Linked DNA regions of Homo sapiens. The protein of the gene in region 1 interacts with the protein of each later gene in a pairwise test. Each region holds a gene or a part of one and is shown in the gene's direction. Other genes may lie near its edges.

Evidence for each region.
Region 2: the proteins of SSX3 (region 1) and ZBTB25 interact in a two-hybrid assay, tested with the Homo sapiens proteins (one large-scale study listed by BioGRID and IntAct).
Region 3: the proteins of SSX3 (region 1) and ZNF496 interact in a two-hybrid assay, tested with the Homo sapiens proteins (one large-scale study listed by BioGRID and IntAct).

Annotation. Positions count from the first base shown.
Region 1 is NC_000023.11:48,346,597-48,350,249, reverse strand, and holds part of SSX3 (protein SSX3), read left to right. Parts: intron 1-127; coding exon 128-263; intron 264-662; coding exon of another isoform or gene 663-709; exon of another isoform or gene 710-853; intron 854-1,801; exon of another isoform or gene 1,802-2,645; coding exon 2,646-2,746; 3' UTR 2,747-2,750; intron 2,751-3,214; 3' UTR 3,215-3,653. UniProt on the Homo sapiens protein: Could act as a modulator of transcription.
Region 2 is NC_000014.9:64,497,243-64,500,895, reverse strand, and holds part of ZBTB25 (zinc finger and BTB domain-containing protein 25), read left to right. Parts: intron 1-442; exon of another isoform or gene 443-1,455; intron 1,456-2,903; exon of another isoform or gene 2,904-2,963; intron 2,964-3,653. UniProt on the Homo sapiens protein: May be involved in transcriptional regulation.
Region 3 is NC_000001.11:247,321,867-247,325,519, reverse strand, and holds part of ZNF496 (zinc finger protein 496), read left to right. Parts: intron 1-2,289; coding exon 2,290-2,366; intron 2,367-3,653. UniProt on the Homo sapiens protein: DNA-binding transcription factor that can both act as an activator and a repressor.

The DNA of each region.
Region 1 (3,653 bases):
CTGTGTAACTCTCCCAGTGTTGTTGAGAACATTGAATAAGCTAATGCATGTGAAGACCCTTTGTAAGCTCAAAAGCACTATAGAAATGTCACTGATACTATTTATCTATGACCTTCACATTATAAAGATCATGCCCAAGAAGCCAGCAGAGGAAGGAAATGTTTCGAAGGAAGTGCCAGAAGCATCTGGCCCACAAAACGATGGGAAACAGCTGTGCCCCCCGGGAAAACCAACTACCTCTGAGAAGATTAACATGATATCTGGTAAGAGGAAGCAATTCAGGAACAATCCCACTGGCTTCCCTGGCGACGTTCAGGTGTGTGGACTGGGTGTGTGGCATGGATCCCAGATAACCCTGGGTCCAGGCTGGGCTGAGGAGCTTGCCCAGCTCCAGATGAGATGTTAGACATGACTTCCAGAGACAGACTGGAGTTGTCATCCATATAAAAAAAAACCACGTGACTTGAGGAAAGTCTTCCAAATTTCCTCAGCTCCAGGTTCCTAGTCCATAAGATGGAAATAAAGAATCATAGTTCATAAATTGTTTGGAGACATTAAATTTAATCTAGAAGGCCTGATGACATGAAAGGTGCTCAAGCGATTCTATCTGTGATAACCTGGGATCATATCTTACTCAGCTCAATGCCTGTTACCCAATACAGGTGTCCTTCAGAGATACTGCAGGTTCGGTTCCAGACCACTGCAATAAAGTGAGTCACACACATTGTTTTTTGTTTGACAGTGCATAAAACGTTATGTTTACACTACAGTGTAGTCTACTAAGTGTGCAATAGCATTATGTCTAAAAATGTATATACCTTAATTTTAAAATAATTCATTGTTAAAAATGCTAACAATCTTCTGAGCCTTCAGTGAGTCACACTCTTTTTGCTGGTGGAGGGTCTTGCCTCGGTGTTGATGGCTGCTGGCTGGTCAAGGTGGTGGTTGCTGAAGATTGGAGTGGCTGTGGCAGTTTCTTAAAAGAACACAACAATGAAATTTGCCACATCGATTAGCTCTCCCTTTCATGAAGGATTTCTCTGTAGTATGTGATGCTATTGGATAGCATTTTACCCACAGTAGAACTCCTTTCAAAGTTGAACTCAATCCTCTCTAGCTATGAAAGTCCTAGATGGCATCTCCTTCCAATAGAAGGCTATTTTATCTACATTGAAAATCTGTTGTTTCGTGTAGCCACCTTCATCAGTGATCTTAGCTAGATCTTCCGGATAACTTGCTGCAGCTTCTCCATCAGGGTTTGCTGCTTCACCTTGCACTTTTATGTTATAGAGACGGCTTCTTTCCTTAAACCTCACGAACCAACCTCTGCTAGCTTCACAGGTTTCTCCTGCAGCTTCTTCACCTCTCTCAGCTTTCATGGATTTGAAGAGAGTTCTGGTCTTGCTCTGAATTAGACTTTGGCTTAAGGGAATGTTGTGGCTGGTTTCATCTTCTATCCTGACCACTCAAACTTTCTCTATTTGAGCAGTAAGGCAGTTTTGCTTTCTTATTCGTGTGTTCACTGGAGTATTAGTATTATTATTTCCTTCAAGAACTTTTCCTTTGCATTATATACTATTATTTCCTTCAAGAACTTTTCTTTGCATTCACAGCTTGGCTGTTTGGTGCAAGAGGCCTAGCTTTCAGCCTGTCTTGGCTTTCAGCATGCTTCCTCACTAATCTTAGCCATTTCTAGCTTGTGATTTAGAGTGAAAGGCATGCGACTCTTCCTTTCATTTGAACACTTAACGGCCATTGTAAGGTTGTTAATAATCCTCATTTCAGTATTGCTGTGTCTCAGGAAATAGGGAGGCCCAAGAAAAGGAAGAGAGACGCGGAACAGCTCATCGGTGGAGCAGTCAGAAGACACAAAACATTAATCGATTAAGTTTGTCATATTCTATGGGTGCAGTTCCTGGTACCCCCAAAACAATTACACACAACAGGGTGATTATAGTCAATAATAACTTAATTGTACTTAAAAAAACTAAAAGAGCATAAATGGATTGTTTGTAAGGCAAGGATAAATGCTTGAGGATGGATACCCTATTTTCCATGATGTGATTATCATGCATTGCATGCCTGTATCAAAGCATCTCATGTACCCCATAAGAATATACACCTACTGTGTACCCACAAAATAAAGAACAAAAATTATTTTAAAACACTAAAAAACAACAAAAACAATTTTAGTAATAATAGTAAAGCTCACTGATCACAGATCACTATAACAGATATAATAATAATGGAAAAGTGTAAAATTGGTGAGAATTTCCAAAAAAAAAAATTGCAGCATCTGCGAAGCAGTATGAACATGAAGTGCAACAAAACAAGGTATGCCTGTGTGGCTTTAACAAATACGTGCTGTATGAAATTAGGTATGGGGGAATGTTCCCGTAAGTGAAGAGGTTGGGAATCTAAGCCTGAGAAGGGAAGGAGCCAGAAGCTAAAACTTTAATTGGCATTTGGCCTATATTGGTGTGGGTCTAAGGTCTCAGCCTCTCTAAGCCAGAGAATGTGAAAAACTGGATAAAGAAGGCCCATGGGCACTTGGGAGGAAGCAGGCATCTCCTTTTTTTGAGTAAACAGAGCCTAACACTCTCCAACCTACCCAACCCTCACTTTCCAACTATTCTCCATCATAGGACCCAAAAGGGGGGAACATGCCTGGACCCACAGACTGCGTGAGAGAAAGCAGCTGGTGATTTATGAAGAGATCAGCGATCCTGAGGAAGATGATGAGTAACTCCGTAAGAGAACCTTCCACTCATCCCCTGCATCCCTGCAGATGTGCTATTCTGTTATGATACTGGCATCCCATCTGTCACTTGCTCCCCAAATCATTCCCTTCTTATAATTTTCTAGTGTACAGCATTGAGGCTGAATGATGAGATTTCCCATGCTCTTTCTACTCCCTGCCCTGTATATATCCAGGGATGCTCCCTACCCAGGATGCTGTGGGGTCCCAAACCCCAGGTCAGCCCTGATATGCGGGCCACACCTTCCTCTAGCCTAGGAATTGATAGCCCAGGCGAGGAAGTCACTGTGGCATGAACAGATGGTTCACTTCGAGGAACCGTGGAAGGTGTGTGCAGGTCCTGAGATAGGGCAGAATCGGAGTGTGCAGGGTCTGCAGGTCAGGAGGAGTTGAGATTGAGTTGTCACGTGGTGGGAACTCACTGCCACTTACTTTCCTTCTCTCTTCTTGCCTCAGCCTTGGGGATATGACACATGCCCATGATGAGAAGCAGAACGTGGTGACCTTTCACGAACATGGGCATGGCTGTGGACCCCTCGTCATCAGGTGCATAGCAAGTGAAAGCAAGTGTTCACAACAGTGAAAAGTTGAGCGTCATTTTTCTTAGTGTGCCAAGAGTACGATATTAGCGTTTCCATTGTATTTTCTTGAAGTGTGTCATTCTGTTAGATATTAACATTTTCACTGATGAGCAAGACATACTTAATGCATATTTTGGTTTGTGTATCCATGCACCTACCTTAGAAAACAAGTATTGTCAGTTACCTCTGCATGGAACAGCATTACCCTCCTCTCTCCCTAGATGTGACTACTGAGGGCAGTTCTGAGTGTTTAATTTCAGATTTTTTCCTCTGCATTTACACACACACACAAACCACACCACACACACACACAC
Region 2 (3,653 bases), on another chromosome or scaffold:
TATTTTTAGTAGAGACAGGGTTTCGCCATGTTGGCCAGGCGGGTCTTGAACTCCTGACCTCAAGTGATCCGCCCACCTTGGCCTCCCAAAGTGCTGGGATTATAGGTGTGAGCCACTGTGCCTGGTCCATGTTTTCTTTATCCATTTGACTATCCATGGACATTTGAGTTTTTCCCCCTTATTGGCAATTCTTCTGCCTCAGCCTCCCAAGTAGCTGGGATTACAGACGTCTGCCACCACGCCCAACTAATTTTTGTATTTTTAGTAGAGACGGTTTCACCATATTGGCCAGGCTGGTCTTGAACTCTGACCTCAGGTGATCCACCCTCCTCGGCCTCCTAAAGTGCTGGGATTATAGGCATTTATTTACCGTTCTGCTTTCCCTTTGCTAGCAGGAATTTTCTTTCTCTCTCTCTCTCTTTTTTTTTTTTTTTTTTTTTTGCTTTATTGGGAGAAAAAGTGCTTAGAGTGTTCAGTTATTTTTTATATTTTTCTAATTCATTTCTTCTCTGGTTACAAATCAGTCATGCATGGATGTTTTATTTTTTCTGAAATCTCCAAGCACTTTAAGCAAAGGTTTTTATTAGCCCACTTGAGTAGTGTGTTCATGGGAGTATACTTCCATTGCGAAAGAAGTATTGGTTTACTTGTATCCAGAAGTTTTAGTTACTCTTGCCTGTACTGTATTCTAGGTCTGTACTAGCATTATAATTTTCCATCTTTCTCCTGTCCTTTGAGTACCTTATTTTTTCTTTTAGAAATTTGGTTTGTCTTTAATGGACTGAGAGGAATCTTTTCCTTTCTTTCTCCGGGTTCTGATTTTTTTTAAAGGTCTATTAACAATTTGTGCTTACTGTTGTTAGTATTCTTGTGTGCTTGGCTTTATCAGGCATCCTACAATGTAATGTTGGTTAGATGGGAATTAGAGGTGCTTGGAGGTTGGCTATGTCTGCCAACAGGCAGGAGGCCCCAAACTAACGTTTCCCAGTTCCATTAAAGGTTTCTAGAGCATAACTACTCTTCCTGTTTCATCTACCCCCTCCATACCCTCTTTGCTAACATTCTCAGTAGATCTTAATAAGCAGATGTCTGGAATTACAGCAGATTTTACCTCAAACAGTATTTTCAGATTTAGAATTTCTGTATCATTTTTAGGTGTTATGAAATCCAATCTAGGTGTAATGGAGTAAGAGAGTAAATATTTCTTTTTCCTAAATACTATTTGAAAAGAAGTCTGAAAATAGTGTGTTCCTCCACCCCCCCACCCATGCCCATCCTGCCAGTTTAGGAGCACTTTTGATTCTTTTTTTTCTTTTTCTTTTTTTTTTTGAGATGGAGTTTCACTCTTGTTGCCCAGACTGGAGTGCAATGACACAATCTCAGCTCACCACAACCTCTGCCTCCTGGGTTCAAGCGATTCTCCCGCCTCAGCCTCCCGAGTAGCCGGGATTATAGGTATGTGCCACCACACCTGGCTAATTTTGTATTTTTAGTAGAGACGGGGTTTCTTCATGTTGGTCAGGCTGGTCTCGAACTCCCGACCTCAGGTAATCCACCTGCCTCGGCCTCCCAAAGTGCTGGGAGCGAGCCACCATGCCTGGCCATGGAGCACTTTTGTTTCTTAATCTGGCCAATATTTTAAGGTTACAATTAGAATTACAGTTGTTTATATTTGTTCATTTAATGTAGTCAACATAATTTCCATACTTTGAACACTCTTACGGAATTGTTTATTTATAGAGACTAGTATAAAGTTGTTCTATCTTACTTAGTTTGAACTAATCCAGAGTTATACAATCTAGAAAGTAAAGAAAGTTTTTATTGTCTCTTAAATATCAATGTAATTGTAGAGTGTGAAATAATTTCTTGGGTTTCCTTGGTCCCGTGTTCTTCTGAGGCAGTGGTTCTTAACTGAGCAGTCACGTTAGAATCACCTGGGAAGCTTTTTAAAAAAAGAATCTGGGCTGGGCGCGGTGGCTCACGCCTGTAATCACAGCACTTTGGGAGGCCGAGGCGGGTGGATCATGAGGTCAGGAAATCGAGACCATCCTGGCTAACACAGTGAAACCCCGTCTCGACTAAAAATACAAAAAAATTAGCTGGGTGTGGTGGTGGGCGCCTGTAGTCCCAGCTACTCGGGAGGCTGAGGCAGGAGAATGGCGCGAACCCGGGAGGCGGAGCTTGCAGTGAGCCGAGATCGTGCCACTGCACTCCAGCCTGGGCAACAGAGTGAGACTCTGTCTCAAAAAAATAAAAATAAAAATAAATAAACAAATAAACAATCTGGCCGGGAACAGTGGCCTACGCCTGTAATCCCAGCACTTTGGGAGGCCAAGGCAGGCGGATCGCCTGAGGTCAGGAGTTCAAGACCAGCCTGGCCAACGTGGCGAAACCCCATCTCTACTAAAAATATAAAAATTAGCCAGGCGTGATGGGCACCTGTAATCCCAGCTACTCAGGAGGCTGAGTCCGGGAGAAGCACTTGAACCCAGGAGGCGGAGGTTGCATTGAGCCGAGATCGCGCCATTGCACTCCAGCCTGCAGCCTGGGCGACAGAGCGAGACTCTGTCTCAAAAAAAAAAAAAAAAGAATCTGTGCCTCACCCCTAGCAATTCAATTCTGTTTGGGCTAAGCCTGGGTTGGGACTCAGACATCAATACAGCTCTGCATAGAAGGTTTTACAGTATAGTCAGCAATAAGAACCTCTGTTTCAGGATAAAATGATTTCTACAAACATTGTTTCATTCTCTACATAATTAAATGTCACACCTCTACAGTCATGTGAAAGTTCCATTAAAAAGTTAGTCGCTATATAAAGTCTTTTATCATATGGCACTTGAAATATTTTGCTTTTGCCTTTGTATTTATAGCCATGAGTAAGTAGCTCAAAAAAGATGTACATATTCCTCTGCCAACTTTCCTGTCTCCTTGTCTGAATGAAAATTCATCATAAAGTCTCAGTGGTAAGCATTGACAGAGAAAATACCTAAGACTGTTTTCCTACAGAAACAGTCGTCTTGCTCTTTTTGTTCCTTTTTTATTAAGGATTCTTACAGCCTGAGAGAATGAAGAGCTGTGTAGTCCAGGATATCCGGCTGGCTACCATAGATCTGAGAGTCCAGTCTAGTACAGTAGATTTTTCTAAATACATAAGAATCAAAGATATGTATTGAATATCAAGCCAGCTTTAAACAAACATAGATACTAGTATAAAGTTGTTCCATCTTAATTTGAAGTAATCCAGAGTTACTACAATCTAGAAGGTAAAGAAGGTTTTTGTAATCTCTTAAATATCAATGCTAAAACTATTATGATAATGTATCACTTTGATAACAGATAAAACTTTTAAAAATGTAGCACTCATATTTTGATTCTGGTATTTATAAGTATAATAAAATACTTTATTTTTCCATAATTTCTCTCACATCTTAAAATTCTCACCAGAAATTCTCAAATGTAACTTCTAAGCTCTTTCTGTATTCATGGGAAACTTTAGCTATTTCACATACTAGAGAAAATAAAATAGACAGTCAAAGAATGATGAGCAAAGGCTATACAAAAAGTCTAGCTAATAATTTGCAGAGTAGGTTGTATTAGAAAATGTTCTAATAACTCAATGGAATGGGGCTATTGATTTGAAGTAAAATCTGGTA
Region 3 (3,653 bases), on another chromosome or scaffold:
ATGTTCTCGTCACAAAAATATATGAGGTATAGATTTGTTAATTAGCTTAATTTAATCATTTCACAATGTATAGTTATCACATTGTACAGTTTTCGTATACAAAATACATACAATTTTTGTCAATTATAGCTTAATAAAACTGGGAGGTAAAAGTAAGTTAAATAAAGATGAAGATAGAAACTTAAAATGGAACATACACACAGAAAAATACCACCTCCTCAAATCTACGCCCATCCAGCCTGAGCTTCCCCTTCAGACACAGTGAAGAGGCTGCCTTCCACTGAGACCCCTAGAATGGCACTGCCATCTGTGTGGGCTCCTGGCCCCGTCCTTTGTTCCACATAGCCACTCCTGCAGCTGCTGTTTCCTGCAGGCTTTGTATTCCAGGTCTGAAAGGCCAGGGACACTGGCCTCTGGGGTTTGCTTTGATAATGACTTAACATGTGACCTGGGGTTAACCAGTAGACTATAGCACAGCTCTCCAAGTCTTAATCTGAGAAAGGAGTACCTTTTGAAACAGAGCTCATTTTTACATGGCTGCACTGTTGGCAGGGGATGTGGCTCATGGCAGAAGCCTGAACAAAGGGTAGTTTCCAATTCCAGGAGAGAAGAGTGGCAGAGTCCCTGGTAGCCCAAAATAAGGCTGGTGAGATGGTCCCAAAGCCACACTTTACATTTTGTATGAGGGTCTTTAGGACACTGTGTCAAATGCTCTTTCAGGAGTACCTACAGTGGTAACAGTTTTTCTTTTTTGTTTAATTTCTGTCTTCAAATTGACAAAAAAAAATTGTATGTATTTACAGTGTACAGTGTAATGTTTTGATATCTATACACATTGTGAAATGATTAAACCAAGCTACTTAGCTGGGCATGGTGGCACACCTGTAGTCCCAGCTACTCAGGAGGCTGAGGTGGGAGGATCCCTTGAGCTCAGGAGTTCTGTTCCAGCCTAGGCAACCTAGTGAGACCAGTCTCTTAAAAAAAAAAAAAGTCAAGCTAATTAATATAATGCATTACCTCATATACCTATCCTTTTTCTGTGTGTGGTGAAAATACTTCAGATCTACCCTCTTAGCAATTTTCAAGTACACAGTACGTTGTTACTGCCTATAGTCACCATGTTGTGCAATAGGACTCCTGAGTTTACTCCTCTCATGTCACTGAAATTTTGTACACTTTGACCAATGTCTCCCCAGTCCCCTCATTCCCTAGCCTCTGGTAACCAGCATTCTGATCTCTGCTTCTATGAGTTCAACTTTTTTAGAGTCCACATTTAAGTGAGAACATGCAGTATTTCTTTTTGTGTCTGGCTTATTGCTCGTAGCATGTCTTTCAGGTTCATTCATGTCGTCAAAAATGACAGGATTTTCCTTCTTTTTTTATGGAGTTCCACAGTAATTCTGATTGCCAACAGCCCTTACTTTTTTTTTTTTTTTTTTTCATTTGAGACAGAGCCATGTTCTGTCACCCAGGCTGGAGTGCAGTGGTGCAGCTGTGGCTCACTGCAGCCTCCATCTCTCAGGCTCAAGCAATCCTTCTGTTTCAGCTTCCCAGTTTTTTTATTTTTAATAGAGATGCGGTCTCCCTATGTTGCCCAGACTGGTCTTGAACTCCTGAGCTTAAGCAATCCTCCCACTTTGGCTTCCCAAAGAGCTAGGATTACAGGCATGAGCCACCACATCCAGACCCTAAGAGTCCTTATAGATTCCTCAACTCTACGGCTTTTTCTTTTTCTTCTTCTTTTTTTTTTTCTTTTTCTTTTTAAGAAACAAATACTCTGTGTTGTCCCTGCTGGTCTGGAACTCCTGGGCTCAAGTGATTCTCCCACCTCAGTCCCCAAAATAAGAATAGCTGAGATTACAGGCATGTACCACCACACACGGCTGAACTCCATAGAGTTTTAACCTTTATTTTCCCATAGTTTGGATAACAATGCTGAGGTCCGGGGACCTACCCGAGGTGAAAGAGTTCATTTAATTGACCGTGCTATCATGAACCCAGGCACACTCTGTTACAGCCCCCCTTGTTATATCTGGAAACAAAGTCGCAGCAATCTTTGTGGTTTACAGAGTACTTTTCATGTGCGTCATTTTGTAATCCTCATTTTACAGTTAAGAACAGAGACTGGGGTTTTATGAAAAGCACCATGAAACAGTTCCCTGTTGGTGCCTCTCTTGTGATTTTCTTTGCTACCAAAATGGAAATGAAGAGCCGCAGGAAGCTCAGAAGGTATCAGCACCAGGCCTGGCCCTGGCCCACTTTAGGACACCATTTTCTGATCTCTTTCAGTTCTGCAAGATGCTTTCCTTCTTCAGGAAGAGAATGTGCGGGACACACAGCAGGTGACCACCCTCCAGCTACCCCCGGTGAGTGGTTTCTACAGGAGTCCTTGAAAATCCCCTGTTTGCCTCTGTAGGCTACAGGGCAGCTTTCTTAGGACCCCAGCCAGCTTTCTGACTGCCACACAGGATGTTCAGTCCCAGCCCAGAAAAGCTAAAATAGGCAGAGCGTGAGCTTAAGAGACGCCCCATTTCTCCTCCTTCCCTGTGGTCCCAGCCGCCCACTGGGTCTACTGTCATCAGGCCACCTTCAGGAAGCTTTGTGCAGACGATAGCAGGAAACAAAGGCCCATGAGTCCCCATTGATGGGCCTCTCAGCATGTCTAAGTTCCCCTCTTGTGAAAAAGGAGATCTCTCTGCTCTTTTATTTTACAGAGAATTTTTCAATTTAATAATCATCGCAGCAATGGTTATATTTTAGAAATGTTAGGAAGTGGAGGGAAGAAAGCACAGATAATTTCAGTCCTGTCACAGATCTACGTGGTGAGTCATTCCAGAATTTCCTCGAATGTTCTCGTTCGTGTTTTTGTGTAAGACTTGCTTACTCGGGTGCTCTGAGGAGTCAGAGTCAGGGCTGGGGGCTGGTCCAGCAGGTGATCTTACTCGCCTCTCTCTAGCCCAGTTGCTGTCTTTGGCCATGTTTTCTGGCCATATCTCCTTCACTTTCCCTCCTAACACTTTCCACTGGCTGGCACAAGATTTAGTTATGACAGCATCATCCCCTCCCATGGGAACAGGATGTGTGGCTCCTGCTTTTGTTTAGTTGCTCCTTACCCAACAGAAAACTGTGAAAAACAGTAGACACTCTTATTACCATGTCTCAGCAGAATGTCGGAAGCTGAGCAGTTTGCTTTCTGCACAGTTCATTTGACATGACTTTATTTTATTTTTATTTTTAGAGACAGGGTCTTGCCTTGTCACCCAGGCTTCAATGCAGTGGCACAGTCGTAGTTCACTGCAGCCTCAAACTCCTGAGCTCAAGCCATCCTCCCACCTCGGTCTCCTGAGCAGCTGGGACTACAGGTGCATGCCACTACACCCAGCTAAGTTTTGTATTTCCTTGTAGAGACAGGGTCTCGCCATGTTGCCCAGGCTGGTCTCAAACTCCTGACCTCAAGTGATCCTCCTGTCTCAGCCTCCCAAAGTGCTGGGATTACAGGCATGAGCCACTGTGCCCAGCCAACATGACTTTAAACTTGGAGAAGGGAGGGCTAGGGATGGGAAGGAGTTAGCCAGGTTACCCAGTTAGGGGGCATCTCCATAACTTGCTTTTGCCCCACCAGAAATGTGGCACACGCCTGTTTACCCTGATGC